Linked DNA regions of Homo sapiens: all the other regions are linked to region 1. Evidence: fine-mapped expression QTL. A gene starts in region 1. Each other region holds a variant in brackets. All regions are shown on one strand. Distances are from middle to middle.

What was found. PIP is the estimated chance that this variant, and not a neighbour inherited with it, causes the effect. A credible set is the group of variants that fine-mapping cannot tell apart.
Region 2: its variant is the best candidate, but not a certain one, in a credible set for the expression of CTDSP2 in whole blood (TOPMed, PIP 0.67).
Region 3: its variant is the best candidate, but not a certain one, in a credible set for the expression of CTDSP2 in whole blood (TOPMed, PIP 0.54).

Annotation. Positions count from the first base shown.
Region 1 is chr12:57,841,510-57,852,153 of GRCh38, forward strand. CTDSP2 (CTD small phosphatase 2) reads right to left here and starts at 5,220. Exons shown (of 8, transcript NM_005730.4): 1 at 4,863-5,220. The coding sequence starts at 4,926. CTDSP2-AS1 (CTDSP2 antisense RNA 1) reads left to right here. Exons shown (of 2, transcript NR_188077.1): 2 at 750-2,252. RefSeq lists silencers at 3,662-3,711, 4,042-4,341, 4,932-5,361, 5,372-5,451, 5,522-5,701.
Region 2 is chr12:57,812,375-57,823,018 of GRCh38, forward strand. AVIL (advillin) reads right to left here and starts at 6,360. Exons shown (of 20, transcript NM_006576.4): 1 at 6,255-6,360; 2 at 3,601-3,685; 3 at 1,778-1,852; 4 at 853-1,049. The coding sequence starts at 3,666. It overlaps CTDSP2 (CTD small phosphatase 2), which reads right to left. Exons shown (of 8, transcript NM_005730.4): 8 at 7,553-10,644. The variant T/A (reference allele first, on the strand shown) is at 8,496.
Region 3 is chr12:57,781,605-57,792,248 of GRCh38, forward strand. It overlaps TSFM (Ts translation elongation factor, mitochondrial), which reads left to right and starts at 1,183. Exons shown (of 6, transcript NM_005726.6): 1 at 1,183-1,254; 2 at 1,506-1,679; 3 at 4,559-4,687; 4 at 5,436-5,558. The coding sequence starts at 1,198. It overlaps EEF1AKMT3 (EEF1A lysine methyltransferase 3), which reads left to right. Exons shown (of 3, transcript NM_015433.3): 3 at 1-937. RefSeq lists enhancers at 944-1,813, 1,167-1,236. The variant C/G (reference allele first, on the strand shown) is at 3,822.

The DNA.
Region 1 (10,644 bases):
CATGCCTGGCCTTCTCCCACCCCCAGATGCCCAGGCACCAGACAGAATGGCCAAAGTCCCACAGCCCAGGCAGATAACAAATCACATCCCAAGTCACATGACACAAAGAAGGGGTCTGTGCAGCAAGGCTGTTTGTAAGCCTAAGAGGTTGATCCTTCCAGAAGGCCCAAGCCCCCACAATCAGTGTCCCCTCTGACCCCCGGCCACCTGTCTTGAAAAATAAAACCCACAAGACTACGTGCTGTTTACACTGTGTCCTTGGGGGAATGGAGGAGGGCGAACAGAGTAGTCTAACTATGTAAAGAGGGAGGACATTAATATTTATCAAGCACCTACTAAGTACCAAGTATAATAGAAGGGTAGATATCATTATTACTACTTTATAGATAAGTTACTCAGAATACTAAAGTGATTTATCAAGTCTCATTGCAAATAGGAAAAGAAGGTATTTGAACCCAGGCCTGAAGCAATTTTGCTTCAGAAACAATGCTTTGAAGTAACAATGTAAACTTTAACCACCATCCCTGACCCTGGTCCCCACTCTGTCCAATCTAAGAACCAAACTTACCATGATGGGAATAAAAGACAATACCCCAAATTACCCAAAAGCTAGCAGAAAAAAAAAATTGTAGGAGGAATTGGAAGGGAAGCTATGTATTGATATGTACACACATACACACAATCCCATATATATTTACATATTGTCTTTCTTTTCCATGCTTATTTACAAACACTTTAATTCTTCACAGGTTGGGAGCATCAATTCACGTTGGCTAGAAATGTGACTTCTTTAGTATTTACCATTTTAACAAAATCCATGATAAGGGATTTGGAAGGTCCCATGGAAAGGATGAAATGACACCTCTCTGCTACCCAGTTTCTTTAAGACCTCTACGGTTGAGAAGAGAGGACAAAGGAACACCCCCACCTCTGCCATCCTCCGAGGGATTTTTCACAGCAATTCCAGTGCTGCTCAGTGGAAAGCTCTGCAAGTCAACTGCAAACCCCCAGCCCCAGATGTTAGGCATTTACAAACTTTGTTGCTGATTTATCAGCGCTCCTCTGCAATTTTGGGGACAGGAGCAAACACAAGCTTAAGTCACCACGCAGGCTGCAACCCTTACCCAAAGATGGGGGAAAAACTCCAAAGGAGATGCAGGAGGGAGCCTCAGCAGTCACTGTGAGAGCACAAAGAGGCCAAGACCCAGGGTAGGCAAAGGAAGGTGAGAGGCACCAGCAGGGCAGGAGGAGGAGCCAGCTATAAACATGCAGGCTTCCCGCCCCCTGCATAGCAAGCTATGGAAGGAAGCTCCAGCAAGATTCATGTCTAAGCTTTTCAAGTTAAAGGCTTGCCTACATCTACAGTGAACGGTGTCTGAACAACTTTTTGAGGGAATAAGGCAGAATTTCTCCCTTATGCGGATAACAAAAGAGCTAGCCATCCTGAAAACTTGCCACATCGTAATTTTCAGAGATGGTCAGTCTCTCAGAAGAATCCTTGCAATTAGCTATCAGAACCTGTCCAGTTCGGCATGTGAGAAGGTAATCCAGGGCATCATCGAGAGGAAGGGGCATCAGGATTCATGGACAACAAAAAAATCTCTGATTCCTCCAAAAGGCGTGTGGGTCACTGAGCTCCGGAAGAGGCTGCCTCCACCAGGTCTCATTTCACGTTGGGAGGTTACAGCGTGGGTCTTGTTTCCTTGGCTTTCCCCCATCTAATCCCAAAGCCAAGGTCACAACCTCTTAGCAATGGGGTGACAATCTCATATAGAGCTGCAATCAACAGCCATTCTTGCCAAGCTGATATTAACATTTCTTTTTTCTTTTTGATGTTACACACAATCCTGTCCTTGCTGTACCAGAAAGCCATTTCACCCATCTGTCTGGGAAGATGATCCAATTTTGGTGCTTTTATCATCAATGCTTTCAGCAACTTTGTTCTACTTCCCCTACTGTAATTACTTTTGAATCATCAACGCACCCAGACAGCCTTAAACCTCAGAGAACAGAATGCTAAAAAAAGAAAAAAAAAACCCGCAATGGCAAGTAACTTCACTAAATAGCCACCCAAGCTAGGAGCAATTTGTTTCTTTCCAGAAATTTACTTATTAATAATAAGTACCTCACACTCCTTCTTCCCCTTTTTCCAAAGGCAGGCAAGGCATGGAGATGGGATGTTGTGGAGAGGACGGAGTGGGGAGAAGAAGGAACTCCAAAAGGAGCCAATTAAAACATCTGCTTCCCCAGTCCCCCAGCTTTTGTTTTTTGTTTTGTTTTGAAGACGTAGGTTTTGTTTGTAAATGATGTGGGACTCAGAAAGTTGGTTTAGTGGTTGCTGGGTGCCTAAGCAGCCCAGGAAGAAAGTCTGTCTTCTCTGGAATGCAATCAAATTACATGGGGAGGGGCCGGGCGCGGTGGCTCACGCCTGTAATCCCAGCACTTTGGGAGGCCGAAGGGGGCTGATCACCTCAGGAGTCGAGACCAGCCTGGGCAACTGGCGAAACCCCTGTCTCTACTAAAAAATACAAAAAAATTAGCCAAGCGTGATGGCGCGCGCCTGTAATCCCAGCTACTTGGGAGGCTGAGGCAGGAGAATTGCTTGAATTTAGGAGGCGGAGGTTGCAGTGAGCTGAGATTGCGCCACTGCACTCTAGCCTGGGCAACAGAGTAAGACTCCATCTCAATTAAAATAAAAAATTACATGGGGAGGGAGAGACCCAGTGGCTGCTGGCTTAAACCACACACACAAAAAAGGAGAAACATTAACTCCAAGAAAATCCAACACCAGCAACTTAACACTGTCAAGCCAGTTGCTTTGCTTTCTGCTGTTATCTATTCTGTAGCCTGCCATTCACCCTGGTGGATGAAACTTCCAGCTCTGATTTCTAAGATGCCCCGGCGCAGTCCAGCTTTCCCTTACTCCTCGCGTGGCCCCACGATGCCCAAGGCACACTCCCTGCAAGAGAGTCCCTGCAAGAGAGGAAGACCTAGTGGGGAAGCACAGGGCTCCTCCCCCTACTCATCACCACTGCCCCCTCTTGAATCCCCCCACATCTAGGTTTCTTCCCCTCTGGCTAGCTCTTAGGGTCTTTTCCTGGGATAAAAAGGGAGTGGGAAGAGTCAGGAGTGAGCTATAAACACACGCAGGCTCCCTTCCTTTTTCAGCCATCAGCACAGTTGAGCAGCCAGCAGAGGCGGTGAAGTTGCTGCCTGGGTCACAGCCTGGTTAGTGATGCAGCCAGGAGAGCAGAAATCATGGCAACACCGAGGTCAGGGAGGCCGGAGCCTTCTCGGGGGTTGGGATCTGAGTAGGCAAGGCCATCCCTTCTCAGGGCAGGCTTATTTAAAGTCCGGCCAGTGATGCAAGAGGAACACACTGCCTCCCTCCCCCCACCCTTCCCCCCTCCCAGCTCCTCTCGTTCCACTGAGGGAATTTGGGAGAGGCTGACACCACCAACTCAGCGGATTTGCCCCTAGGGAAGTTGGGGGAGCTCCTTGGAACGTGAACCCCAGGAATTAGTGACCTGCTGACTAATGTTGCCAAACGGGGAGACGTGGGGCGCACGAGGCCCCGAAGCTGGCCGCCCACCAGGCTCTAGGCCTCAGTGTGTTCAACTGCAGCACCGGCCCTTCGCGCTCGGTGGAGAAGGGGAGGGAGCGCTCCGGCTTCGGCCCCAGGAGCCAGCTCCCGCCCCAGCCTCCGGGGCCAGGTGGCCCCGGTCGGGGGGCTCTCTAGAGAAACGCCACACTCGTCCTTACACCCCGCGGAAAATCTGCCGCTATTTTGGACACATTCCTCAAGGCCAAAAGAAGAACGTGGCGGAGGGGGAAAGAGTTTCGAGTCTCCCACTGTGACCAAACTAAGAGGTTCCACCCTCGGGCCCCAGCTTTCTCCCGCCCCGGGAGAGGCCTCGGCCTCCGCCTCACCCCCGCGAGGGCCTGCGGGCCCCCTCGCGCCTCCACCTGACGCTCTGGAAGGCGGGGGCCGCCAGCCGCTGCCCACAGAGAACTCGCACTTTTTCGCTGCGCGATTCAGAACCACGCCGGGTCTGATGCCATCCGGCGAATTATGTAACCAGGGACACCGCTCCCGGGCTAAACAAACGCGGCTCTGTGTGTGCAGCGCCGGCCCCGGGGGAGCGCACCGGGCAGGGAGGGGCTCTGGCCGGGCCTCAGGGTCGGGCTTGTTTGCTCAGCGAAACTGGTCAGAGGCAGCCGGGAGGGAGCCCGACGCCGCCAAGGTCCCGGGGCCTGCGCTGAGCCGGGAACCCGCCACGTCTGGTGCGCCAGGGCCCGGGCCCCTCCCCCACCGCGACCGCCCCCGCCTCCAAGAGGTGAACTTGGTCCCAAGTCCCGCCGGACGCCGTCACCGCCAGCTAGCTGCCCGAACGACCTCGGGCTTGGGGGGGCCTGCAAGTGCTGGACTCCAGTCTCGGTTCCGTTCCACCTGGGGCTCCCTCTGTCACCTTCCTAACCCCTCCCCGCGATCCCGGGGCAGCCGCGCGCGGCGGTGAAGGAAAGTGACGACCCCACCCCCAACTCCGGAGGCGGTGGACGCGGAGTGGCCCAGTGCTTCGAGAGCTACCCCTCCGTCTCTCAGCCCCGAGGGGGAGGGGTTGCGGGACAGGGTGACAGCTGCGCCGAAGACGCCCTTTCCGCTCGGGCGCCGGGATCCCCGTGCAACCCCCACGGAGGTCTGAGTGCCAGCCGGGATGCGGGGGCGGATGGACCGGAGGGGTCCAGTCGGGATCGCTGGCTCTAAGCCCTGGAGGTCAAGGGCCGAGACCTGGGTTCGGGGCTGTGCTAGCCCCCTCCGCGCCCGGGGGCGACGCAAAGTTTTGGGAAGTTGCTGCCCCTACCTTGCTTGGTGAGCACCAGGGCGTCTTCCCTCCGCGCCTGGGTGATGATGGAGCCGTGTTCCATCTAACAATCCCGCGGGCCCGGGCTGGCTGGGCGGGAGGACGGGCGGGCGCGCGGGCTGGGCTGGGCTGGGGGGCCTGGGCGGGGGCCCGCTCCGGCTCCCGAGACTCCGACTTCCACAGCTGTTCACATCCCCCCTCTCGTTTCCTCCCCGGACCGGGAAGGGAGGCGGCCTGTACAAAGGGCGGGCGGCCCGGGCAGCGGCTCCCCCGGGTGCCCCCGGCCCCGATCCCCCAGCGGCAGCTCCGGGCTCCTCAGTTTGGGTCCAACATGGAGAATCCGGAGCGAAAACAAGAGGAGGAAATGGGACACGGGGCGGTTTCCAGGCTCCCCCCTCCCCTCCGTACTCCAGATAAACAACCCGCGGCTGCAGCGCCCACCCCCGCGCGCCTCCCGGCTCTCGACTCGGCCTCTTCACGGCCAGCTGGAGCTTCCCGCTGGGGGCTGCGTCCTAGGCCCTGGGACCCTCCATCTGTGAGCGGCCGGGGCTGCGGACAGTCGGGAGCTTTGCTATTTTGTTACGGAAAAAGCGAATCCTCAAGGGGGGTGGGGTGGCGGGCGGGCAGGCTGGCGGGGGAGACTTGAAACCGTTCCGGTGCTCCGATTGGCTCTCTTGGAGAAAAGGGGCGTGGCCCCTCCTTACTATGCGGTGAGAGGACCTAACAACATTCCAGGCGCCACGGCCACGCCCCCGGGCCACTCCCCCCGCGCCAGACTGCGGCCTCCCAGTCTCCTCGGCCACACCCCCTTCCCAACTATTTAAAAGGCCGCTCCGAAGCTCACGTTCTGGTGCTCTGTGCTGGGGTGTTCTTTTCTCGGAGGGCGCACTCGGGGAAGGTGGAAAGGTTTCCCCCTTCAGGGGTGACCAAGACAAGCCGCTAAGCCTAACCTGACTCCAGCAGGGGATGGGGCGGATCGGAAGTTACCTTACCCCCCTGCTTAGCCCTAGAATCAAGGACGTACCAAGTCACATAAAAGTACAACCGTCGAGGCCAGGCGCGGTGGCTCACGCCTGTAATCCCAGCACTTTGGAAGGCCGAGGTGGGTGGATCACGAGGTCAGGAGTTCAAGACCAGCCTGGCCAAGATGGTGAAACCCCGTCTCTACTAAAAATACAAAAAAATTAGCCGGGCGTGGTGGCGGGCGCCTGTAATCCCAGCTACTCGGGAGGCTGAGGCAAAGACTTGCTTGAACCCGGGAGGCGGAGATTGCAGGTAGCCGAGATCGCGCCACTGCACTCCAGCCTGGGCGACAGAGCGAGACTCTGTCTCAAAAAAAAAAAAAAAAAAGTACAACCTTCGAATCCCGAAAGGGGTGTGTGCGTGTGGGCGGACCTAGGACTCCAGAGTATAAGAGCTGGAACTGACCTCGGGACTGTGTCCCCCAAAACACTGAAAATGAGACCTGAGGTGCTGGGCTTTCCTCACACCCACCGACTTACTCCCATTTAGGCGGCCCCGACTCCGCCCCTCCTCCCTACCTCCCTCATCCTACCCCTCTCTTTTTGCCCCCACAGTCCCAGCTTCCTTTAGATGGATGGAGGTCTCTCGGAGGAGCTTCAGCTTTGTGGACTCAGGCTGCCTTCCCCACTTGCTCTTTAGGCCTCGGGGCACGCTCCGCTGGCTACAGCTCCTGGAGTCTCTGCTCAAGGTTGTGGGTGCTTTTGTTCCCCAGCGGTGGTAGCTCCAGAAAGGCTGGTTTCAGCTCAATATCAGGTCTTTTCCAGTGATCTACATCTGTCCACAGGTGACATGGGCTGCCTTGGGACAATGGTAGCTGTTCAAGTCAAGGCCGGCAAGAGTGGTGTAGAGTGAGATTGCACTGGGTGACTTCTGAGCTAAATCCAACCCCAATATTCTGTGATTCAGTGGCACTCACCCTGCCAAGGAAGGGGCTTCCTTCCTGCTGCAGTTCCCATTGCCCAACATGCATCAGGTCTTACTGATGATTAGAGGACAACTAGGTCACAGCTAAGCTTGCCAGGTACTATCAGACACCTGCTTCCTATGGTCCCTTCCTCATGAGGACAGGTGAGGTCATGATCTGCATATGCCTGTGTGCCATACAGTGATCATGTGTGCCTGTTTCTGCTGTTCCTACGCACGTATACAAAACCTTTTTATATAACATCATTTTAATGGAAATGCTGTTTTTCCAAAATGAAAGTGGCTGTTACAGATCTGAATGATGCTTATGTAACTTTAAACACTGAATTTGGGTAGATCTTAATTCATTAACAGAAAGGGAAACGGAGGAGTTCTGACATACCCACCTCCCATCATTAAAACAATAGGATCTTTAAGGTAAATCTTCAATAGTCAGGTTGCTATGGGGGCCTTTTTAGACCCTTCCCCTGCCCTCTTCTAAGGTAGATTAGTTGCAGTGGGAGGAATGCAGGCAGGAGCTGAGGACTGAGGATTTAGAGGGGCCTGCTACCCATAGCACTGTAGGGCAGGACACTTCACTTCGTTATGCTTCCATTTCCTCATCCATAGAGACAATACCTCCCCTTTTGTAATTTACAAAGTACTTTCACATATATTATCTATTTCATTTGATCTCTCACTTCTTTGAGGTTGATAGAGCAGATATTATGCCCATTTTTATAGATGCCTGTTTTGTAAATGAGGAATTGGTCTGGGAAGGTTAATTGACTCACCTGAGACCTCACAGCTTGTTAAGAAGAGGAGACAGGATGTCTTTGGACTTTAAGACTAGAACCCTTGACACTTTAACATAGTTCCCTTCTTATCTATAGGATGGAGGAGACACTAGAACCTATCGCTCTCTTTTCCTGCTGTGAACTCCAATTGCATCACCTCTCCTGGAAGCCCTCCCAGATGCCCGCCCTCATGTCAGGGTTTTATAGCCTCATACATACTCTCTCAGACCACTTGGCACCCTATCTTGCAACTGTGTGCTTATTGGCTTCCCAACCAGAAGGTGGATTGAGACTAGGGGATGTCTTATTCTTTACTGGATTTCTTGTGCCTAGCAGAGTGCCTAACACAGAACAGGTGACTTGTACATGTTGAGATGAAGTCTCACTCTGTTGCCCCAGCTGGAGTGAAGTGGCGTGATCTTGGCTCACTGCAACCTCCGCCTCCCCGGTTCAAGCAATTCTCCTGCCTCAGCCTCTTGAGTAGCTGGGATTACAGGCACCTGCCACCATGCCCAGCTAATTTTTCTATTTTTAGTAGAGATGGGGTTTCACCATGTTGGCCAGGCTGGTCTCAAACTCCTGACCTCAGGTGATCCACCTGCCTCTTGGCCTCCCAAAGTGCTAGGATTACCAGTGTGAGCCACCATGCCTGGCCTTGACTTTATGTCTGAACCAGTGTTCTTTTGTCCAGGGATTTGTTCAGTGACCTACAGCAAGAAACACATTTTATGTTGTGAGATAAATGATACAAAAGTTTCATGGACAATACTTACCCTGGCTATGTGTGCACACTCATATTTTCTATTGCACGTATTGTGTTCTATTTGATGGTTTTAAGGTGCCAGCCATGACCTTTTAAATTGAATTCACAAACCACCACCGGATTGTGACCCAGTGTTAAAACAATGCTACTTTCACTCCTGGATGCAGTAGATGCCTTCATGTGTGTCTCAGGGCTCTGGCTGTCCCTGAAAGATGCAGAGGAGATGGTCCTCAAGCATTTCTTGCTCTGAGGTCAAAGAAAAATTTATGTATAACAGATAGAACCCCTTCCAAGGCCAGAGGCACAAGGGTACAAATAGAACCCAGCAAGGAGGGGTAAATGAGGGAGGAGGGGCAGTTCCCAAGAGGCCTGGTGAGGACCCCTGTGCTTCCAGAGACTACAAAAGCAGTGGAGGCGCTACTGGAGCCTGGAACCCCAAACATAGGTGGGGCTTGCTCTCTTGATGCCACAGGCTTCTCACTGCTCTGTCCACAGATGACTAGGAAAAGGTCTGCACTCTGGAAAGCTCTGTAGGGTCATGGTGGGCCTCTTTCCTATAGTTGAAGTGGTGAGGGTGGTGGGAGGCAAGTGGACCTTCTAACTTCTGCCTAAAATAGCCTCAAAAATAACATCCTGCCTACGGGGCCTGGGCCAGTTGCTGGTTGTGTAACTTTAGGTGGTTCATTTTAGGTGGTTCAAGGGAGATAGCTGAAGCCAGGTCTAACAACTCTCCCAGGAGAAAGCCCACTGACTCTCACTTGGTTCCCTACCTGCTGTATCCCCTTTCCTCTGGCCTCTCTGACTGCATGGTTGGTAAGAGGCAATTTGGAAACAACAGCAGTGTCCCCATTACCCCCAAATGCTAGAATGGGGGGCTATGTGGGGCAAACATGGAGTGGCTGTCCCTGTCTGTCTCCTGCTGTGGCTACTGAAGTCGGACTGGGTGTCCCGAGCCAAGGCTGGCGAAAGGGAAACAGCTGGAGGAGCTTCCTCCATGGGAGATGCCTAATTGCCCTTTTCCCCACAGAAAATAAGTACAAGGTTGGGCTACCGACCTTTCATGATTATCTCTGATGTCACTGAAATATTACTTTTTTTCTTAAAAACTTTTTTTTTAAAAAAAGGAACACATTGATTTTCTTGGTTTTTCTGATTGTCCCTGCAGTCTCAGTTCTGCTTTGTATTGTTCATGAGTAGGTGGATGTCAATGCCAAGATTCCAGAGCTTGGTGCCCTCCTGTCACAAGGCTTGTATGGTATGGTCCTGTCCTGGCTTCCCAGGGCAGAGTATCGGGGCTGAGATGGGGTGGGGTGAGGGAGAGAGACCCAGTGGCTAATGACTGAACTGCTGTGAGGGTGCCAGATGCTGAGGGCTGCAGAGGGAGGGAGGAGCTAGTGGTAGCGGGGATAGCTCCTCTGTGCAACAGCGTGGGAAACCTCACTGCCTGCAAGGTGCAGGCATGCTCATCACTCCAACACCACCGCTTAATTACTTAACCTCTTGACTCAGTTTTCCCTTAAGATGGAGCGAACAATAGTACCTACTTTGTAAGTTATTGTGAGGATTAAATGAGATGATGTATGAAGTGTTTATGCCTGAAACACTGAGTGCTTAATAGACACTATGCTCATCATCATCATTCTCCTTTCCTCCAAAGCTGTTCCTTCTGCATCCATCATCTGCCCAGTTCCCCAAGCCAGAAACCTGAGGTCACCCAATTCTCTCCCACCTAACTCATGCCTACCCCCTATCAGTCCTGAAAACCAATGGCTCCTCCACTCCCAAAGGTTTGTCAGGCCTTTTCCTTCTTTCCATTCGCATGCATGACTGGCTGCTGTGTCAGGGGAGGTTGGCAACAGGCTTCTCATCAACCTTTTTCATTCTCTACATCCCAAATTCAAATCCATTCCCAGCTCTCCTAGAAAATGCAAATCTGACTCTGTCTTGTCCTGATCCTGTCTGTATGGAATGATTCAGCAGTTCCCTGAGACTTCCAGAAGGAAGCTTAGATGCCTAGCTGGGCACCCATGGTCCCCAAGATCTATCTCCTAGTCAGCCTGCCCACCCCATCTCCAGCACTTTCCCCCACAGCCCCCTGTGCTCCTGTCAGGAGGAACTAAATGCCTGGGATCCTGTTACTGACGTCCTATGCCTCCCTACCTTTGCACAGGCAGTTCTCTCTGCCTGGATGCCCTTTCCCCCTCCTCTGTGAGCTAACTCCTTATCCTTGAAGATACAATTCAAGTGCCACCTCTTCCTCAAATCCTCCCAGGTCCCAGTCTGACTTAGAAGCTTC
Region 2 (10,644 bases), 29 kb before region 1:
TTGTTTGAGATGGTGTCTTGCTGTGTTGCGGGGCTGGAGGGCAGTGGCATGATCTCAGCTCAGTGCAACCTTCGCCTCCTGGGTTCAAATGATTCTCCTGCCTCAGCCTCCCGAGTAGCTGGGATTACAGGTGTGCACCAGCATGCCCGGCTAATTTTTGTATTATTAGTAGAGACGGGGTTTCACCATGTTGATCAGGCTGGTCTTGAACTCCTGACCTCGTGATCCGCCTGCCTCGGCCTCCCAAAGTGCTGGGATTACAGGCGTAAGCCACCATGCCTGGCCATGCGTGTGCTTTTTAAAACAGAAATTGGCATTCTGTTATATGTCTTAGTCTGTTTCTTACTTTGTGTGCTAAGCACCATGTTTGTGAGCTCTGTCCTTGTGTTAGGTGTGTATCTAATCTGTTGCTTCTGGCTACTGCATAATACTCCGTGGTGTGCATGTCCAGTCTCCGAGTGATGGACACCTACGTTGCCTGCAGCTTCCTAACATCATTAATGAGGCTGCTATGAACAGTCTGGTCCATGTGCCCTTATGGACCTGGATACGTGAGGATTTCTGTGAGTTACACATGCAGAAGTGGGATTTGCAAGTGGCACTGACTACTCTCCAGGATGCTGCGCTAGTCCACACTTCCATCAGCAGGGCACAAGGGCTCCTATTTCCCCATAGCCTTGCCAACACTTGGCACCTCCCAGCTGTTTAATCTGCTGCTCTAGTGGGTGGAAGTGACAGCTTTGTTTTGATTTGCATTTCTCTGATTACTTTCTTGATAATGCATGTTGGCCTTTTGGGTTTCCTCCTCTGTAAACTGCTGTTTCTGTCCTTGCTCTGTGCACCCCTACTCACATGATGCCCTGCTTGAAGTAGCCACGGAAAGTGTCTGACTCATGGTACTGGACCTCTCGGTGCTGCACAGGGCTGCCTCCCAGGTAGTCGTCCAGCTGTGTGGTATATATGGCTGCGCAGCTTTGCTCATCCTGGGAGGAGTCCTTCCCGATCCAGAAGTGGATGTCCTGGGATAGGAGACTGGCCACTCTCCGGGTCTGGGAGGTAGTCAGAGAGATCAGGTCAGAGGCCAGCTCACCTCCCCTTTGCTGCTGGCCCCTGTTATGGGGAGAATGCAGCACATGTGCATGCCCTTGGCAGACTGAGGGCCCTCTCTCCTGCAGTGGATGTGGGAGCTGCCCTGGCCCCCGAGCAGACCTGCGATCATGGCATAAACTTTGGCAGCCCAAATTCCTCCCCGCATTTGGGGAAAGTTGACAGCTTGTTGTTCCCCAAATAAATAGATACCAACGGGGATCTTTTCCCAGCCGGGTTGCAGGCTTACCTCACAGGTCCCCTTGGTCCCTTGCACTCACACAGCTGGCACAGTGCTCATCTGTACACCTGCACGACCCTGTCAGCACCGTTCATGTGAGTCTCCTCCATGAGAATAGCACTTTGAGGCTAGAGACAGGCCTTGCATTTATCAGGCCTTCTTCCACACCACTTTAATGTGGGGCCTAGGCCCGGGAGAAGTGCTGCTTGTGGGTGGCTCACTGAGGTTCAGACTGAGGGTCCTACCCCCATCCTCTTATGCAGCATTAAAAACCCAGGCTTAATGATGGCCTTTGATAGTCAGACTGGAGGTCTGCTCTGCATAGCACTGAGGAACCATTGAGACCGATACCAGGGACTGACTACCTTCCCTCACCAGCACATCTCCCAGTACAGCCCAAGAACTGGCCCCAGGGGAGAGGCTCACAGGAGTGGGGAGGAGGGTGCTCACCGAGAGGATGACGTAGCAGTCCCCCTCATAGAAGTTGCCGTGGGCGCTCACAGGCACCAGCGCCAGCTCCATTTTCTGGAAGGACAAGGGGTGGGTATAGGCTACATCCCCTCCCACCTCCCTTCCCCATGAGCCTCCCTCTCCTCTCTGTCATTCGGTGCAGGTGGTGGGGAGAAGGAGGGGAGATGTTCTCAATGACCTTACAGGATGTGAGGCTGCCAGCCACAGGGTTAACGTGGCCATCCCTCTGGCTTCTGTGAGCTCTGCTTGCATCACCCCGGATCTGAACCTTGGTCCCTATCCTGCTTTCCCTTGCCCTATTCTCCACTCTACTTCCCACCCGATCTCATCTCGCACTATTGTGGGAAACCTGTGAACCACCTCCAGCCCTTTGCTGGATATAAACGACCAAGTACAAACCCTTCTCTGAGCCGTTGTGCCAGCACCTCCAACGCTCTTCCCAACGCTGACCACTGGGTGCTGGCCCAGGCCCATGTAAGAAAGAACACTTGGATTCTGTGGGGCCGTGGGAGGTGGAGGATAACATTTGGAGAGTGCCAGCGGTCAGCAGGGCTCTGTGCCAAGTGTCTTATATTTGGAGTCTGGGTCAGGGCCCTGATTTATCACTGCATGTATGGCTTGGCCCTGGAGGACTGTTCACACAGCCTTGATGTAGATTTTCATCACACTCCCCAAGTGAGGGAAACTTGCGGCCATACTTGTGTGTGTTCTATGTAAAATGTGATAAATGTTAAATATACTGCAAATCTGGTAACCGTGTTTTAGTACTTGTTTTTTGTTTTTGTTTTTGTTTTTTTTGAGAGGGAGTCTCCCTGTGTCTCCCAGGCTGGAGTGCAGTGGCGCGATCTCGGCTCACTGCAAGCTCCGCCTCCCGGGTTCACGCCATTCTCCTGCCTCAGCCTCCTGAGTAGCTGGGACTATAGGCGCCTGCCACCATGCCCAGCTAATTTTTTGTATTTTTAGTAGAGGTGGGGTTTCACTGTGTTAGCCAGGATGGTCTCAATCTCCTGACTTCGTGATCCACCCGCCTCAGCCTCCCAGAGTGCTGGGATTACAGGCGTGAGCCACCGCACCCCGCCAGTACCTGTTAGTTTTTAAGGAAACTGGAAGCCTTCAAACAGTGGAAGTGACCTGGGACTCACAATCTCTGCGAGGCTTGCTGGAGAGCTGACTCCCCCTCCTGGTTGAGGATAGTGAAGTGAGGCATCATCGCTGGGTTTTAGGCAGCAGCAACTGACTGGGCTCAGGGCAGGGGTTGGGGGGAATCCTCGTATCTGGCAGGTGGAGCTACCCAGGCCAGGGTGGTTCCCAGCTATGGATTGCTGGAGCTCACAGCCGCACAGAGGGTCCCAAGCCCAAGAGGAGACGGGCTGAACAGCTCCTCATCTCTGCAGTGCCCCCTCACCTCTCCCCATATTTTGTAGGAGCCAGGGTGCCCCGTGGAAGACATGTTCCATTTCTCTGATGGAAGCTGCCAGGAGTCTGCTGAGTAGGTCCCACCTGTCTTTCCAGGGTGTTTCCTGCAAGTGCAGACTCACTGAGCAGGTGGCTGGCTAAAGGACAAGCCTGTTTTTGTCTGGAGCCCTGTTCTTCGGGGCTGAACATTTCCTCCACCTGCCAACCACCTGCTTTGAGCACCCAGGAGAGGTGAAGGATGGGAAATAGGTACTTTGATGCTGCCTCTCATTCTCCTCAAACCATAGGCTAAGGGGTGCTGGCGGGCTGTTGCCTAGCAGCCCCAGGCAGCCAGACTGCTTCCAGATGCCAGTGGTCACAAGTAAGGTGCCTCCAGCCCAGCTCACCTCTATTCTCCAGACAATGATCCCAGGGTCGTTGTCCACAGCCCTGAAGGCACTGGTCAGAGGCATGATGCTTGTCTTTCCAGGACTGAAACATCACAGAACAAGAGGGGAGATGATATCTCTTGCCATAGTGGGCATCAATCCAGTTTTTCTGCCGAGCTGCTTCCCAGTCTGTTGTCAGCCATCCTGCCACACCCTCATGGTGCATCCCTGCACCATTTCACAATGATGGGGGCAAGGACTTGTCCAAGTGCACATGGTGAGCCTGGCTGGCCTGGGGATTACCACCCATGAGTTCTGCTTCCCACCTGCCATTGCCCTTAAGAGCTCTGGTAATCGTCATGGTTATTTACCAAAGGGGTGATAAATATGTTAAGCCCTGTATTGATTCACTTTGCATATGTTATCTCTAATTTTCAGAAGGTGAGTTTCTTCATCTTACATTGTGTGAATCTGAGGTTTGCAAAGGCTGAATAACTTGTACAAGATCACACTCTAGAATGAAATCCTTATCTGATCCCCAAACCTGTGCTTCTAGCCACTTTGATGTACTACAACCCTTCCTAAACCAATCTAAGTTCAGTGGCATTTGGAAAGAAAAGCTAGTCAGAAAAAATATTTCCAAACTCAGTTGCCTTCTCTCACTCTCATTCCAATTCTTCCCAAGTTCCCTGCTTGCAAGGCCTTCTCCACAGTCAACTTTGACCTTCTCTTTGGCTTTTGTCCTTTTTTTTTTTTTTTTTTTTTTTTTAGAGTAAACTATTCTTAAACTCAAACAACCCTTCCTTCTTTTGTCACTACTATATTCCCTGTGCTTTCCAGATGCAAGGAAAGTAAAATGGCAGGGCTGGGCCTGGGACAAAGGGTTCTGGGTGCTAGCAGGGTGTGGCCTGGTCTGGCCTGCGGACAGATGGCTTCCTTTTTCCCTCCCACACAGACCCAAGCTTCTGTGTGGAAGCGTGAACCTCAGACACTTAGACGTCTCCAGTTCCTTCAGGATTGAGCAAGTCAGGGTGGGGAGAGGGGGGAAGTGGTAAAGATCTAAGTCTGTGTAGGTCGTGTACCATCTGTATTCAAGGAGCATCTTGGGTAATTAAGCACCTACCCATGTCCAAGGCCACGTAGAGGCTTTATAGAATTAAAATACCTGCTCTCAAGGAGCTTGAAATCTGATAACATGCATAATTAATGTAAAGCTAGATTAATTTCTCCCAAGAGGCAAAGGAAAAAGGATGGGGTTGATGGATTTATGTAAGATTTAAAAATTCACCCAGAAAGGACTGTATGCATTTTTGCTGTTTGGGGACATACTGTTTGTTAAGAGGAACATGTCTGACCATTGTTTTCTTGAACCTTGATGGACAAAGCCAAGTTTGGAGAGCATGCGCCATCTAGTATGGACTTTGGCAAAAAACCATAAAGCTCAAAGCAGACTCGCTTTGTCTACTGCTGTAGCAGGACTAAAGCAAGGCAATGGTGCGGAGCAGCCAGTGTTTGAGAATTTAATTTGATAACTTGTGCTGCCCCACCCTGTGCTGCTCAGAATTGCCAGGAAATATGGTGTTTGGGTTTTCTTCAGACCCTACGTAGCAGTCATTAAAGGCAAAAGCCATGAGCCAACTAGGGGAAGGGGACAAGGGCCACTGAATTCATTCCTTGGAGACAGAGAACTGTCACCCTGGTAAAAGCCAAACCAGCCGGCAGCAATTAGGACTGTGAGCCTCAGAGGCTGAAACCTGTCCCGTTTCCCAGCAGGAATTTAGGAATCAAGGAGCTCCCTGGGCCAGGCACCCCGAATGCGAGAGGATAAGCTCCAGGAAGGGACTTCCTGTCACACTGGAACACACAGAAAACACAGTTCTGACATCAAATCTCCCAAAGCTGGGTCTCTCCTTCTCCCTAAATCCTAATTCAGTATCCTTTGAGAGGACTGCAGAAACCCCTTGGGTGTGGGGCACAGTTTTGAAATGTCAGGTTAAAAGCCAGTGGCCTGTAATTCTCAGAGATGCCCTTTTGGACGGACCCTGAGCAGAGGAAGCTGTTTTTTGTTGTTGTTGTTTTTGAGACAGGGTCTTGCTCTGTCACCCAGGCTGGAGTGCAGTGGTACAATCACGGCTCACTGCAACCGCCACCTCCTGGGCTCAAGTGATCCTTCTGCCTCAGCCTCCTGAGAAGCTGAGACCACAGGTGTGCACCACCATGCTTGGCTTTTTTTTTTTTTTTTTTTTTTTTTTTTTTTGTAGAGACAGGGTCTCACTATGTTGCCCAGGATGGTCACAAGTTACAAACTCCTGGGCTCAAACAATCCTCATGCCCTGGCTTCCCAAAGTGTTGGGATTACAGGTGTAAGCCACCTCTCTGGGCCAGGAAGCTGGTTTTAACTCCTCCTGCCTTGCTCCATACCATCTTTCTCTAGGGATAGGTGAAAGGGGTCTGTCTTTCCCAGCTTTTGAAAATGTGCCCTATATGTTCAGCTGCCTCTAAGGGGTTCTTCTGAACAAGAAGTTTGCAAAACTGGCCAGCCAGACTCCTGGTTCATTTTAAAAGCCTCATCTCAGAAGACAAAGCCAAGGGACTCTCAAGCTCCTCTTCCTTTCATTTCTTCCTCATTCAGGAGGATTAACTGGCATGCCCCCGTAAATCAGAGACCTTACCTTGCCTTCTCGCTCACCAGCCTTCCCAGTTTCCCGGCGCGTAAGCAGCAGCAGTATTGAAGAACCACTCCAAAGCAGGAGGCTCCAGGTCCTGCTGCCTTAGCTTAGTAATGGCCGCAGAGATACTGGGTTATATTTGCTTGTGTTTGCATCTTAACCGCATTTTCCTAGTCCTGGCCAATCAGAGCCAACCTAGCACTGAGCTTGGCTTATTCAAACCAGAGGGAAAGCTTTATCTGTGCCTATTCAAAACAGCAAAACAGAAGAGCAGACTTTTAAAGGCTTCTTTGAACTCCAGCTCCACGCCCTGATCTAATTGATTTTTTAAAAAGTGCACACAGCCCATCAATAATGCAGGAAAGAGGTTGGAAGGATATGAAATTTGCCATATTGTAGATATGGATGCATTATGGTGATGACAGGAGGAAGAGGCTGGAGCTGCCCCATGAGTGCCTGTGATGTCTAGGTTGGCAAGAGCCTCCCTAAGAAGCTTCTGGCATTTCTCAAAGGGAGGGGAAGTCTGGGAGAGGAGCCAGAATTTTATTAGGCCACAGTTTTGCTCGTTGGGGTCTCTACTAGTCATACAGTAAACCAATCAATATTTGAGTGCCTGCTGTTTGCCAGGAACCATGCTGGGCTCTCAGCTTCAGGGTTTCCAGTTTGGAAGAATCAGTGAGGGGCAGAGAAGAATCAAGACTCCATTCCCAGGGCTGGGTGTGGTGGTGGCTCACGCCTGTAATCCCAGCACTTTGGGAGGCTGAGGTGGGTGGATCACAATGTGAGGAGTTTGAAAACAGCCTGGCCAAGATGGTGAAACCCCATCTCTACTAAAAATACAAAAATGAGCCGGGCGTGCTGGCAGGCGCCTGTAATCCCAGCTACTCAGGAGACTGAGGCAGGAGAATCGCTTGAACCTGGGAGGTGGAGGTTGCAGTGAGCTGAGATCATGCCACTGCCTCTAGCCTGGGCAACAGAGCAAGACTCCATTTCAAAAAAAAAAAAAAAAATAATAATCCATTCCCTTAGGGCTTCTGGTTCATGCCCAGAAGTCAATAGGACATCAAGCATATACACGTGCTAAGCACCTGACTGCAATGGGGTTGATCACAGCAGAACTTGTGTAACCTTGAGCGGAAGCCCTGTGTGGCATCTGCAGCTGGCCTCCCGGTGGGTGCAACACCCCACTCAGCCCGGGGGTGCAGCTGCTTCATGATGGAAGGGGTTGCGAGAAGAAAGGCGGTGCTTGCCATGGGCCCAGTGAACACTTAAGGGCCAATGAAGGTTGGTGGCAGCTCACATTCCTGGAAAGGTTTTTTAAACCCACTTTTATTAATTAATTGTAAGTAATACAAATATTCCAAAAATATAAACAGACACTTAATGGCGTCCTGCATTTCAAGTTTTTGAATACAACAAATTTATCAAACCATGAATCTGTAAGCAAGGTAGTCAGAATCCCATAGCCCAGTCACAGTGGGAAGCAGATCCCCTACCCTCCAAATGGCATCTTGAAGGGGGAAAGCGGCACGAAATGGAACATGATAAGCAAAAAAGCTCACGAGGCCCAAAGAGGAGGGTCCGCTCCATGGGCAGGCCCTACAACGTTAAAAGAATGGGGCAGCTGGCCCGACCTCTGGCCTCCTCTTCCCTGGCTGAATGTAAATATTTACCAGCATTTAGAAAAAAGGAGAAAAAAGACAGAACTAAACCCGTTTAGGAAAAAGGGACCGAGGGACAGCAGTGGTTAAGTAATCCACTGAGGACCTGAAGGGGAAAATGGACTTACCTTTCTCATATACTTGGCCTGGCTAGGACACTGGGTGCCAGACAGCCTTCTGAGGGGATTTTCTTTCTAAATGAGGCCTCAGGAACAGGTAGGGGCAGCAGAATAGAATAGCATCCATTTCCCAGAGAAAGACTGCCTTTACATTTCCCATGCTTTTAGCACAAAGCAGCGTCTGGGCCACTGTTACCAGAGGTGAGTTTATACATTTACAAAATGCTTAAAATCTTTGGGAAGCAAGAGGAAGCTAAACAGAAGGTCCCATGTTAACTGAAGGCAAATTCACTCAACCTCTCTAGTAAGGGACCCATGGGCCTACAGAGTGTTCCCTCTACAATGTGCAGAGTGGAAACCCTTACCTGACCCTTTTCCAAACTGGTCCTGTGTCCAAAGCTCCCCCTATGAGAGGGACACGAACATCAGGCTTTTGATTTAGAAGCCCAATCAGAGAGACACAC[T/A]GTGTCCCTGAAGAGGCACCTTAAAAGAACTGAACCTGGCAGGTAGGCAGATTCCTGGCATGGCTTGAATTGGTGCTGACCAGGCATGGTGGCCTATTGCCTCCCAAAGACCAGTCTCAAGTGGGAGGGGCTGATGGTGGGAAGCCCTAGAAGAGAGTCTGGGATGAAGCGGCCTCCTCCCTGTCTTGCCCTCCAAAATTGAGTCTGGCCTGATTCCTTTGAGGAGCAAATTTTACAATCATCCCTCACCCTAACACACGGTGAAACTGGAAACCCGACAGCAAATAATGACTAGGCTGGCTCTGGTCCACAAGAACAGACCCTGGCTAGGTTTGGCCGAGTAGCTTCTCTGGGGCAAGTGGGAATGGCATTGTTGGGGGGGAGTTGCAGGTGGGCAGGCAGGGTTCTGATGGGAGTGAGGCCTAAAAAGCAGGGGCTTCATGCAGATGCAGCAGGGACACTCCCACCAAGCCATCCTGGGCTTTGGTCATGGGTCCCACGCCAAGCACTTGGACAAGTCTGTTAGGAAAGGGGGTGGCACATGCTCTTCCGCCATCTGGAAAAACATGGAGATCCAAGGGAGGGCGGAAAGGGTCCTTGCAACTCAGTCAGCTTAGAGCCTCTTATTGCTTATTTAGTCAGAAAAGCCTGGCTGGGCCTAGACGGCAAAAGATTTGGCCAAGGGCTAACCCTTAGGGTGGGGCTTGGAAGAGAGGCCCCTCCTGCAATATTAGGATAGCAGCCTAGGTCAGGCCTTGGGTCCGAAGCCACAGCTGGCTCTAAGAGTCTGAGCTCCTGCTTTCCTTCAAGAGACAGTATATTTCTGGCTAGCACATGGGGTCCTTCTCCCTTTAGGTACACCGGGACCCCATAGGCACCGGGGAGTGATGCTGGCGGAAATGGCCACATGAGTTCTGGGGACTCTGTTCCACTTTATGATTCCAAAGAGAAAGACAAGGCCTTATAACCTTGGGACAAGAAGGGAAGGTGGCACCACAACGCTAGAGAAAAATGCCAGCCAGCCACCGCTGAGAGCACGAAGCTGCTGCTCTACTACCTGCTTTTCTCAAAACTTGTTAGTTCCTGAGGCTGGATCTAGGGTGTGGCAATGGAAGGGATGATGGGGAAGAGTCCTGAGTGGGTGGTGTCCCTGCACCTAAAGCAATTCACAAATGCTTTGTGATACCTGCCTCCAGGGAACACAGAGATGGGAACAGGAGCGCCCTCCCACCCCAGGAGGAGGGAGGGAGGGAGGAGAGAACCCCACCCACCCCAGGGAGGCCACGATTAAGGCAGTGATGCTGAGGTGGGGCTCCTTTTTGGGAGGCCCCTTGTGCTCCCAATTACAGCAGCACTTCCTCTTATTTTCCACCCTGGGAAAACTTCCATTTCGTGATGACTTTAATTTTAAAGCATTCACTATTAAGAACCTTTGAAAGCAGGAGACACCCAGAGTGCAGGTCTGAGGGGCTCACTCACTCCTGTTACCAGAGGCAGAAAGCATGCGCATTAGGCTGGCAAATGGCAAGAACACTCATTCCCCCTCAGCCCAGGAAGAGCAAGAGTTCTGAGGCCCTTAAGAGGAAAAGCAACAGCCAGGAAGGATGAAGGCTGGAACAGACAGAGCTCGGTACAGGACAGGCCCTGGGGGAAGACACAACAGGAAAAGAGCCCTGCCCAAGAAATGGGAGGGGCTGGGACAGCTTAGTTTTTCCCAGCCTTTGGAACAGAAGTCCTTGCACCAGCACCAGCAGAGAATCCCTGAAAAGCAGACTTATGGAAATGATCCCGAGCTTAGCTGATCCACAAGCCATGGGGACACACGTCCACGCTTTGAGGATTTGTCTTTTCCCTGCAACCCCAGCGCCGCCGACATTCATTACAGGCCCAGGACTGTAACTTTGTCAGAAACAAACCAGGCCCAACACTCTGTGTTTAGAAAGAGAATTTTAAAACACAGTCAAAAGAACGGAAATCAGTTATCTGTCCTCTTCCCGGGCAGGGAGAAAACCTCCTTCCCCACAGGTTTGAGACTATGGCTAGGTGGTGAGGAAGGCAGGCTCAGCACCCCAGCCTTGGGGAGACATAGAAAAGGCCTATCCCAGGCACTCAGCCGGAGGCAAGCATAGCCTTTGGGCCACAAGACCTG
Region 3 (10,644 bases), 60 kb before region 1:
AACATCATTGTGTGCAGAAGAATACTGTACCTAGTACTAAGTTCTTTTCATCTTTGATTTTTCTTTAGCTTCATCAGTCCTTCCTTCCTAATCTCTAATCCCCTGAAGCCTAACACAGTTCCTAATGTGTTTTGCCTTAACCTCTTTTCTCTTCCCACATTGGTACTTCTGGTTGGGGCTCTCTTTACTTACTGCTTAGGCACATAGTCACCTTCTCTGGACTCCCTGCTTCCATGCTTTCTCCTTCAGTCCATTCCGCAAACTCTTGTGATCTTCCAAAATTAGCTCTGATTAGCTTTCACTTCCTGTAGAAGCAAGAACAAGCTCCTCTGCTTGGTACTTAGTCTGTGTCCATGTGATCCAAAATTACCTTCCTATTGCATTTCCTACTCCTTTGCTACGTGTATTGGACCTCTGGCCAAATTACAAAAGATGTACTCTTTGTTCTCTAAAACCACACTAAAGTTTTCTGACTTCTTTCACACTCTTTATGATAATCCTCTGCCTGAAAGGCTATTGCCACCTGTCAAAATCTTCATTATTCTTTGCCTCTTTCCTGAGCCTCTTGCTTGAATGTGATTTCTTTCTCCCTGAGACCCATAAGGTTCATCTTATGGGACCTTAATTTGTCTTGCATGGACATTTGTGATTCTCATTTTCTCACCATTAAATTACCTTGGAGGGTAGGGCTGTGGTTTACTCCTGTCTAAACCCCTGAAGCCTAACACAGTTCCTGGCACACAACAGGTGTTCAACAGATATTGTGCTCATTCAATAAATATTTACTCGCTTTGTTTAATGGATTCCACCCCTGCCTTCCTAGGTGACCTTGGACAAATTCTCGAACCCATTCACCAACCACACAAGTTTGTTGTGAGTCATAAATGGATAATGAATATAAATGCGCATTGAAAATAAACATAAAATGTTACCCACATTTCTTGTGTTGTTGTTTTGTGACGACTTTATTTCTTGGTTTCTGTTATTTTACCTGGGGTGGGAGGTGGGGGGTAATTCCCGTATGAAATGTGTCGTCTCAAGAAATCAAGTAGAGGCGAGGACTGTGTTCCTCCGGCCAGCAGGTGGCACCATACTCGTTTGGTGCGTTCCGCTGGAGAATTCTGGCCCTTCCGCCGCGCCGTAGGTTTGTTGCCTCACCAGTGCGCCCGCCGGAGGGTGTTTATCGCGGCTAGAGAGATGTCGCTGCTGCGGTCGCTGCGCGTGTTTCTGGTCGCGCGGACCGGGAGCTACCCGGTGAGAAGTCCTGGTGCTGGTACCGACCTGCTGTCCCTGCAGCTCTCCTGTGCGCCTGTACCTTTCCCTTCCTCCCAACCTCGTTTGACTCCATCTCACCTTCCCCGACAGCATTGCCTCTGCCCAGTCCAGCCCCGGTGCACCCCCCTTTGCACACTGTCCGCTCCCTAAGGTCGCTTCCCTGCCCGTGTACCCTTCACCCTCTGGAGTTTGCTGCTTCCTGCTCCTCATCCCTTTCTTATCTCATCTAGGCTGGGTCTCTTCTGCGTCAGTCGCCCCAGCCAAGGCACACATTTTATGCTGGGCCCCGTCTGTCTGCCTCGGCCTCCAGCAAGGAGCTCCTCATGAAGCTGCGGCGGAAAACAGGCTACTCCTTTGTAAATTGCAAGAAAGCTCTGGAGACTTGTGGCGGGGACCTCAAACAGGTGTGTGTGTGGAGGGGTGCAGGGCGGAGTACTAGAGCTCGACCTCAGACTCTTGGGGCGGTCACGCTGGGGAGCATAAAGTTAGACTGCTCTTCAGTGACCATAATGGCACAGTCCTAAGTGGAAATCTGGCTTAAATGACAACCTTGGCCTTGACTTTGTCTTATTTGAAAGCAGTTGAGTATCCCAGGATTAACAAACCAGACTGTTACGGTGTTTCTTGTTGCCTGGAGCTGAAAGGGTTTGTGTGAGCTTTGGAGTCAGATTGTTCAGGAGTCAAATTGTGGGGCCCCCACACTGTCTGACTTTAGACTTTTTTTTTTTTTTTCAGACGGAGTCTTGCTCTGTGGCCCAGGCCGGCGTGCAATGGCACGATGTTGGCTCACTGCAACCTCCGCCTCCCGGGTTCAAGCGATTCTCCTGCCTCAGCCTCCTGAGTAGTTGGGATTACAGGCGTGCGCCACGACACCCGGCTATTTTATTTTTTATTTTTTATTTTTTTTTGTATTTTTAGTAGAGATGGGGTTTCGCCGTGTCGGCCAGGCTGGTCTCGAACTCCTGGCCTCAGGTGATCCGCCCGCCTCGGCTTCCCAGAGTGGTGGGATTACAGGAGTGAGCCACCGCGCCCGGCTGACTTTAGACATCTTAATCTTTCAGAGTTGTGTAGTTTTTGCCTGTACGGTCATGCGTCTCTTAATAGGAAGATACATTCTGAGAAATGGCGTCGTTAGGAGATTTTGGCTTATGCACATCATAGAGTACCTACACAAACCTAGATGGTATATTGTACTACAACCTGGGCTATATGGAATTGCCAGCTGCTCCTAGGCTACAAACCGTTACAAAATGTTACTGGACTGAATACTGTAGGCAGTTGTAACACAGTGGTAAGTATTGTGTATCTAAACATAGAAAAAGTACAGTAAATAGGCATAAAAGATAAAAAACGATACATCTCCATAGGGAACTTATCATGTATGGAGCTTGCAGGACTGGAAGTTGCTCTGGGTGAGTCAGTGAGTGGTGAGTGAATATGAAGGCCTGCCTTAGGACACTATGGTGCACTATAGTAGACGTTAAAGCACAGTACACATAAGCTACATTACATTTATAAGAAATTTTTTTCTGTGATAATAAGTTAACCTTAGTTTAATGTAACATTTTTATTTTATAAACTTTTAACATGTTTTAAATTTTTGGACTCTTTTGTAATAACAGCATAAAACACATATTGTACAGCTGTACCAAAATATTTTTCTTTATGCACTTTTTCTGTGAGCTTTTTTCTGTTTTTAAAATTTTAAACTTTTTTTGGCTGGGCGTGGTGGCTCATGCCTGTAATCTCAGAACTTTGGGAGGCTGAGGCAAGCGGATCACCTGAGGTTGCGAGTTCGAGACTAGCCTGACCCACACGGAGAAACCTCGTCTCTACTAAAAAAAAATAAAATTAGCCTGGTGTGGTGGCAAGGGCCTGTAATCCCAGCTACTCGGGAGGCTGAGGTAGGATAATCTCTTGAACCCAAAAGGCGGAGGTTGTGGTGAGCCGAGATCGTGCCATTGCACTCCAGCCTGGGCAATAAGAGTGAAACTCTGTCTCAAAAAAAAAAACAACAACTTTTTTTATTGAAATATCTTTTTTTTTTTTTTTTTTTTTTTTTTTTGAGACAGAGTCTTACTCTGTCCCCCAGGCTGGACTGCAGTGGCACAATCTTGGCTCACTGCAAGCTCCACCTCCCAGGTTCACACCATTCTCCTGCCTCAGCCTCCTGAGTAGCTGGGACTACAGGCGCCCGCCACCACGCCCGGCTAATTTTTTGTATTTTTAGTAGAGACAGGGTTTCACCGTGTTAGCCAGGATGGTCTCGATCTCCTGACCTTGTGATCCGCCCACCTCAGCCTCCCAAAGTGTCGGGATTACAGGCGTGAGCCACAGCGCCTGGCCAAAACTTTTTTTAAGTTAAAAAATTGTTTTGTTAAAAACGGAGACACAAACACATACATTAGCCTAGGCCTACACAGGAGTGGCATCATCATTAACACTGTGTTCCACTTTCACATCTTGTCCTGCTGGAAGGTCTTCAGGGGCAGTAACGGGCATGGACCTGTCATCTCCTATGATAACAATGTTTTTTTCTGGAATAC[C/G]TCTTGAAGGACCTGCCTGAAGCTGTTTTACTGTTAAATTTTTTTATTTTTTATTTTTTTGAGACGGAGTCTCACTTTGTCACCCAGGCTGGAGTGCAGTGGCGCGATAGATCTTGGTTCACTGCAACCTCCGCCTCCCGGGTTCAAGAAATTCAGCCACCCGAGTAGTTTATAAGTTGGAGTACACTCTAAAATAACAATAAAGCATATGTATTATAGTAAATACATAAGCCAGTAACATAGTTGTTCATTATTGTTTCAAGTATCATGTACTATATGTAATTGTATGTGCTATACTTTAATAGGACTGGCAGCACAGACGTTTTCTTTACACTAGCATTGCCACAAACATGTAGGTAATATGTTGCCCTACAATGTTAGGAGGACTACCGTGTCACTAGACAATAGGAATTTTTCAGCTCCATTATAATCTTAGGGACCGTCATCATATATGCAGTCCGTCATTGTCCAAAATATCGTTATGTGGTGCGTAACTGTATAAAGAAAATACAACTGTGTGCCCCATAGGGTTGTTGTGAAGATTAGATTCATCCAAGGCACCAGTTATAATAATACCTGGTATTTGGCATTTAGTGGTAGACTGCCAGTAAATGATAGATTACTTTAGTTTCTGTTAGAGAATTTAGAGAATCAGGAAACCTGAGTATATCTTAGAACTACATTTAGTGCTAAATTCTGTGACTTTGTTGTCTGCTCTTTTTCCTCTCAATTTACAGGCAGAGATCTGGCTCCACAAGGAGGCCCAGAAGGAGGGCTGGAGCAAAGCTGCCAAGCTCCAAGGGAGGAAGACCAAAGAAGGCCTGATTGGGCTGTTGCAGGAAGGAAACACAACTGTATTAGTAGAGGTGAGTTGTTGGAAATTCCAGATACCAAGAACAGCTGTCCCTTGGGTGTAAAGCTTGTAGTAGGCCCTAAAGGGGCCTGTTCTTGAAGAAGAGATCTGTTTAAGAACCATAAAGCGTAGTTGAAGTTAAACTCATGAAACCCTGGGTATTAGTTACGAATTCGTTTAAGTATAGAAATGTACTGGTGTGTTGATGAGAAATGGCCTGACAGTCTAGAATATTACTCCTGAATGTGAGTCTGGCACAGGCTTACACCTTGTCACTGATTGTTTCCTGGAACAGTTAGATTACAAGTTAATTATATTAATTGTTGCTGAATAGAGAGTAGGTATTTTAGAGGAGGTTTGGGGGCCATAATTGGTGAAGAGTCAGATGTGGATTAGTTTAGAGTGAGAGATGGGGATAAACAAGATAATAGCATAAGTGGTTTGGAGTTGGGATGGCTGGAGAATGAGGTGATGATGGTGTGCAGACATAGGTAAGTGGTGAACTTGTGGTGAGTCCTTCAGGACATTATTGAACCATCTTCTGAATATACAGGCTATTGCTAACTCACTGGCCCAACATAAATCACTTCATTCTGTTCCAGGCTAGGAGAGGAAGCGTAGCTTTAAAATTTTGGAGTCATTTTTTTTCCGTTGAGTCTGTAGCTTGTTCTATCAGTATCTTGATTTATTCTCCAGCCTTAAGGCACTTTTGGAAATTATCATTAAACAGCTTATACAGCTATATCAATTTGTTCCCACAGGTAAACTGTGAGACAGATTTTGTTTCTAGAAATTTAAAATTTCAACTGTTGGTCCAGCAAGTAGCCCTTGGAACCATGATGCATTGTCAGACCCTAAAGGATCAACCCTCTGCATACAGTAAAGTAAGTTTGGGATTTGTCTCCAGTGTGCTGAATTTGCTGTCCTCATTGGGTCTTTTGCTGTTCCTATTGTAGACATTCTCATGTCTCATTCTGTTACTTCACATCTCTGCTTAAATGCTATCTCTTTGCATAGAATTACCCTTCCCCCGTTGCTATATCCCCGTGTCATGCTGCATTTAAAATTTTTTATTATGGTGCTTATATATTACATTTTAATTTATCTGTGTGTTGTCTATCTTCCCCAGCAGAATGTAAGCTTTATGAGGCAGGGAATTTGTCTTTTCACTGTTGTATCTCTGGTGAAAGAGAATTGGGCCCACTACTTAGTTGGAGCTCAGTAAATCTTTGTCAGATGAATGAATGAATGATTGAATGCATGCATGCCAGTGAAATGGAGTTAGCCAGATCAAGTGAAGCCATTTGAGGCTTTGTGTTCAGAAATTTGGAATGGTCTTAGGAAAGAATTTCTAAATAAAGAGATTGGAGCCAGGTGTGGTGGCTCACCCCTGTAATCCCAGCACTTTGGGAGGCCGAGGCAGGCAGATCACCTGAAGTCGAGAGTTCAAGACCAGCCTGACCAACATGGAGAAACCCGTCTCTACTAAAAATACAAAATTAGCTGGGCGTGGTGGCGCTTGCCTGTAATCCCAGCTACTTGGGAAGTTGAAGCAGGAGAATCGCTTGAACCCGGGAGGTAGAGGCTGCAGTGAGCCGTTGTACTCCCCCCGGGCAATAAGAGCAAAACTCCGTCTCAGAAAAAAAAAAAGAGAGAGAGATTGGAAAAGACATGGTTTAGGAAAATAAGCATATTCTTATCCATAGAGGGATCAAGGAAAGGAATTATGTCATTCTGCCTTTGACTCAGCCTTATTGCCAAGGCAAAGATGAACCAACCACTCACAGTAATTTTTTTGAGTTTATTACCAACTTTTTTTATCTTCTTTATCCTTCTCTTGAGATGTCTTGGTAAATGTTAATTATTATTGGCATTACATAGTCATATGGAAAACAATGTTGAGATTATTTTTTTTAATTGTATTGAGTAGGTAAGTCACTTGAACTAGAAATTTTAGCTTTGATTTTGCCAGTAAACACCAGTGTACCCTTTTTTTTTTTATTTTTGTTTTTGTTTTTTGAGATGAAGTCTTGCTCTGTCACTCAGGCTGGAGTGCAGTGGTGCAATCTTGGCTCACTGCAACCTCCACCTCCTGGGTTCAAGCAATTCTGCATCAGACTCCCGAGTAGCTGGGACTACAGGCGCCCGCCACCACACACGCCTAGTATTTGTATTTTTTGTAAAGACAGAGTTTCACCATGTTGGCCAGGCTGGTCTTGAACTCCTGACCTCAAGTGATTCGCCCGCCTCCGCCTCCCAAAGTGCTGGGATTACAGGCGTGAGCCACCATGCCTGGCCCCAGTGTACTCTTTTTCCAGATTTGCCATTTATTAACATTTTGCTGTATTTGCTTTATCACTTCTTTTTTTCTTTAAGAGACAGATCTGGCTTTCTTGCCCAGCCTGGAGTGCAGTGGCACAATCATTGTTCACTGCTGCCTCAAATTCCTGGGCTCAAGTGATCTTCCCACCTCAGACTCCTGAGTAGCTGGGACTACATGTGCACACCACTATGCTAGGCTCATTTTTAAGTTTTTTGTAGAGACAGTCTTGCCATCTTGCCCAGGCTGGTCTCAAACCTCTGGGCTCAAGAAATCCACCTGCTTTGGCCTCCCAAAGTGTTGGGATTATAGGCTTGGGTCACTACAGCTGGCCCTATCACTTTTTATATACATGTTATCATCGCCCTTTTTTTTTTTTTTTTTTGAGATGGAGTCTCTCTGTCACCCAGGCTGGAGTGCAATGGTGCCATCTCGCTCACTGCAACCTCTCCCTCCCAGTTCAAGCGATTCTTCCACCTCAGCCTCCCAAGTAGCTGGGATTACAGGCACCTGCCATCATGCCCGGCTAATTTTTTTTGTATTTTTGTAGAGACGGGAGTTTCACCATGTTGGCCAGGCTGGTCTTGACTCCTGACCTCAGGTGATCTGCCCACCTGGGCCTCCCAAAGTGCTGGGATTACAGGCGTGAGCCACTGCACCCGGTCATCATCACTGTTTAAAAAAAATCTTTTTGTAAGTATGTTGCAGACATCAGGATCCTTTATTCCTTCAGCATGTATCTCGTAAAAACAAGGACATTGTTATATAACCACAGGACAGTGATCACATTTAGGATTTTTTTTTCTTTGAGACGGAGTGCAGTGTTGTGATCTCAGCTCACTGCAACCTTCACCTCCTGGGTTCGAGCAATTCTTATGCTTCAGCCTCCTGAGTAGCTAGGATTATAGGCATGCATTACTACTTCCAGCTAATTTTTTTGTGTTTTTAGTAGAAATGGGGTTTTGCCATGTTGGTCAGGCTGGTCTCGCACTCCTGACCTCAGGTGATCTGCCCGCCTTGGCCTCCCAGAGTGCTGGGATTACAGGCGTGAGCCACCGCACCCAGCCAAAATGTGTTAGTTTTAGTAGTTGTCATTCTACTGTTAGAAATAAATTTCCCTTCTCATTTTTATTTAGTGATTTATTCAGCACTAACATTGACTCGTGGGTTCTTATTTTATACAATAAGTTATAACTCATTATTCGTTTTGATGCTCAAATTATCTGCGGATTTGATCAATGCAAGCTGACTGTAATGTCCTTTGATATGCCCTTATTATTTTCTGAGTATTTTCTTACTTTTTGGCTTTTTTGTTTATTCTTATCTTTTGGGTTTATGTCATACTTTCCTTTCCCCAACTGTGGAATGGGCCACTTCTTCAAGGAGTCCTGGTCCTTTTTAGTTGGGGAATGGTTTTTAGAAATCAAGATTTGAATGTTAGGTGTGCTGATTTCTTTCTTTCTTTTTTTTTTTTTTTTTTTTTGAGACAGAGTGTTGCTGTGTAGCCCAGGCTGGAGTGCAGTGGCGCGATCTTGGCTCGCTGCTACCTCTGCCTCCTGGGTCCCGGTTCAAGCAGTTCTCCTGCCTCAGCCTCCCGAGTAGCTGGGATTACAGGCACGTGCCACCATACCCAGCTAATTTTTGTATTTTCAGTAGAGACAGGGTTTCACCATGTTGGGCAGGCTGGTCTTGAACTCCTGACCTCGTGATCCACCCATCTTGGCCTCCCAAAGTGCTGGGATTACAGGCGTGAACCACTGCGCCTGGCCAGGTGTGCTGATTTCTACTGAGATGTCATTTGTTCTTCGAGCAGACAGTGCAGGTGTATGTGCTGTGTGCGTGTGGTTCAATCCTTCCTTTTTCATAGCAACTTCAATATGTTTACTGTTTTTAGTTATGTACTCATATGTACTAAGTGTTACAATATATATACAAAATTGTTTCAGAATTGCTACCCCTGACCACTGCAAATAACAAAACTACTAAGGAGTTCAAGATTTATTTGTAGTTCTTTTTGTCTTTACATTGAAGTTAGGTGGTCAAATGACTCCGTTTAGTTATTTGGATTTTTTTTTTCCTTCTGTGAGCTTATGTTACTCATTTGAAATATAGTTTTATATTTCTTTGTAGTCAGTATTTATTTTCACCCCAAGTATGTGTTGATTTAATTTTATTTTAATTTTATTTTTTAAATGTGTGTTTTTTTTTTTGGCTGGGCACAGTGGCTCATGCCTGTAATTCCAGCACTTCGGGGTTTTTTGTTTGTTTTTTAAATCTTTTTTATATTAATAGAGATGAGGTTTCACCATATTGGCCAGGCTGGTCTCAAACTCCTGGCTTCAAGTGATCTGCCTGACTTGGCCTCCTCAAAGTGCTGGATTATGGGCATGAGCCACGGCACTGGGCCAGATTTTTTTTTTTTTTTTTTAAGATGGAGTTTCACTCTCATTAGCCAGGCTGGAGTGCAATGGCATGATCTCAGCTCACTACAGCCACCGCCTCCTGGGTTCAAGTGATTCTCCTGCCTCAGCCTCCTGAGTAGCTGAGATTATAGGTGCCCGCCACCACACCTGGCTAATTTTTGTATTTTTAGTAGAAATGGGGTTTCACCATGTTGGCCAGGCTGGTCTCGAACTCCTGACCTTAGGTGATCCACCCGCCTCAGCCTCCCAAAGTGCTGAGATTACAGGCGTGGGCCACCGCGCCCGGCCGGCCAGGTTCAATTTTATTTTTGAATACATAAGATACATTAAGAAAGTCCTCAAAGTTAAAACTGTCAAAAAAAAAGTATGCTCAGAGGAGTCTTACTGCTTCTCTCCCTTCTACCCCGTTCCTATCCATCCCTTTATTTAGATAACCAGTGTCATTGGATTGTGGTTATCCTTTCAGTATTTCTTTTTGCAAAAATAAGCATATTTATACAAATAGTTCTTTGTTGCACAGATAGTAGTATAATATGCATATACACTTATAATCTGCTTTTTTCACTTAATAATATGTCCTGGAAATACTCCATAGCAATTCATGAAGGTCATCCTTTTTATTTTTTCCAACTACATAGTATTCTGTTGTGTGGATGTGCTATAGTTTAATCTCCTGCTATGTTTGGGCATTTAGGCTGTTTTTAAAATTTTCTGATTAGAAATAATTGTTCAATGAATAATCTTGTGCAGTATTATTGGAAGTATATCATCAAGGTGAATTCATAGAAATAGGATTTCAGGGTCAAAGGATAAATGCATATGTAGTTTTATTAGATACTACAACTTCACACCATTGGATTTGTACCATTTTGCATTCCCATCAAAAATGTGCAAATCTAGCTCTAACATTTTATGATTTTATGAAAATATTGTTCTTGGCCAGGTGCAGTGGCTCACGCCTGTAAACCTAGCACTTTGGGAGGCTGAAGCAGGTGGATCACTTGAGGTCAGGAGTTCAAGACCAGCGTGGCCAACATGGTGAAACCCTGTCTCCACTAAAAAAGATATAAAAATTTGCCAGGCATGGTGGCGCATGCCTGTAGTCCCATCTACTCGGGAGGCTGAGGCAGGAGGATCGCTTGAACCCGGGAGGTGGAGGTTGCAGTAAGCTGAAATCATGCCACCGCACTCCAGCCTGGGCGGCAGAGCGAGACTCCATCTCAAAAA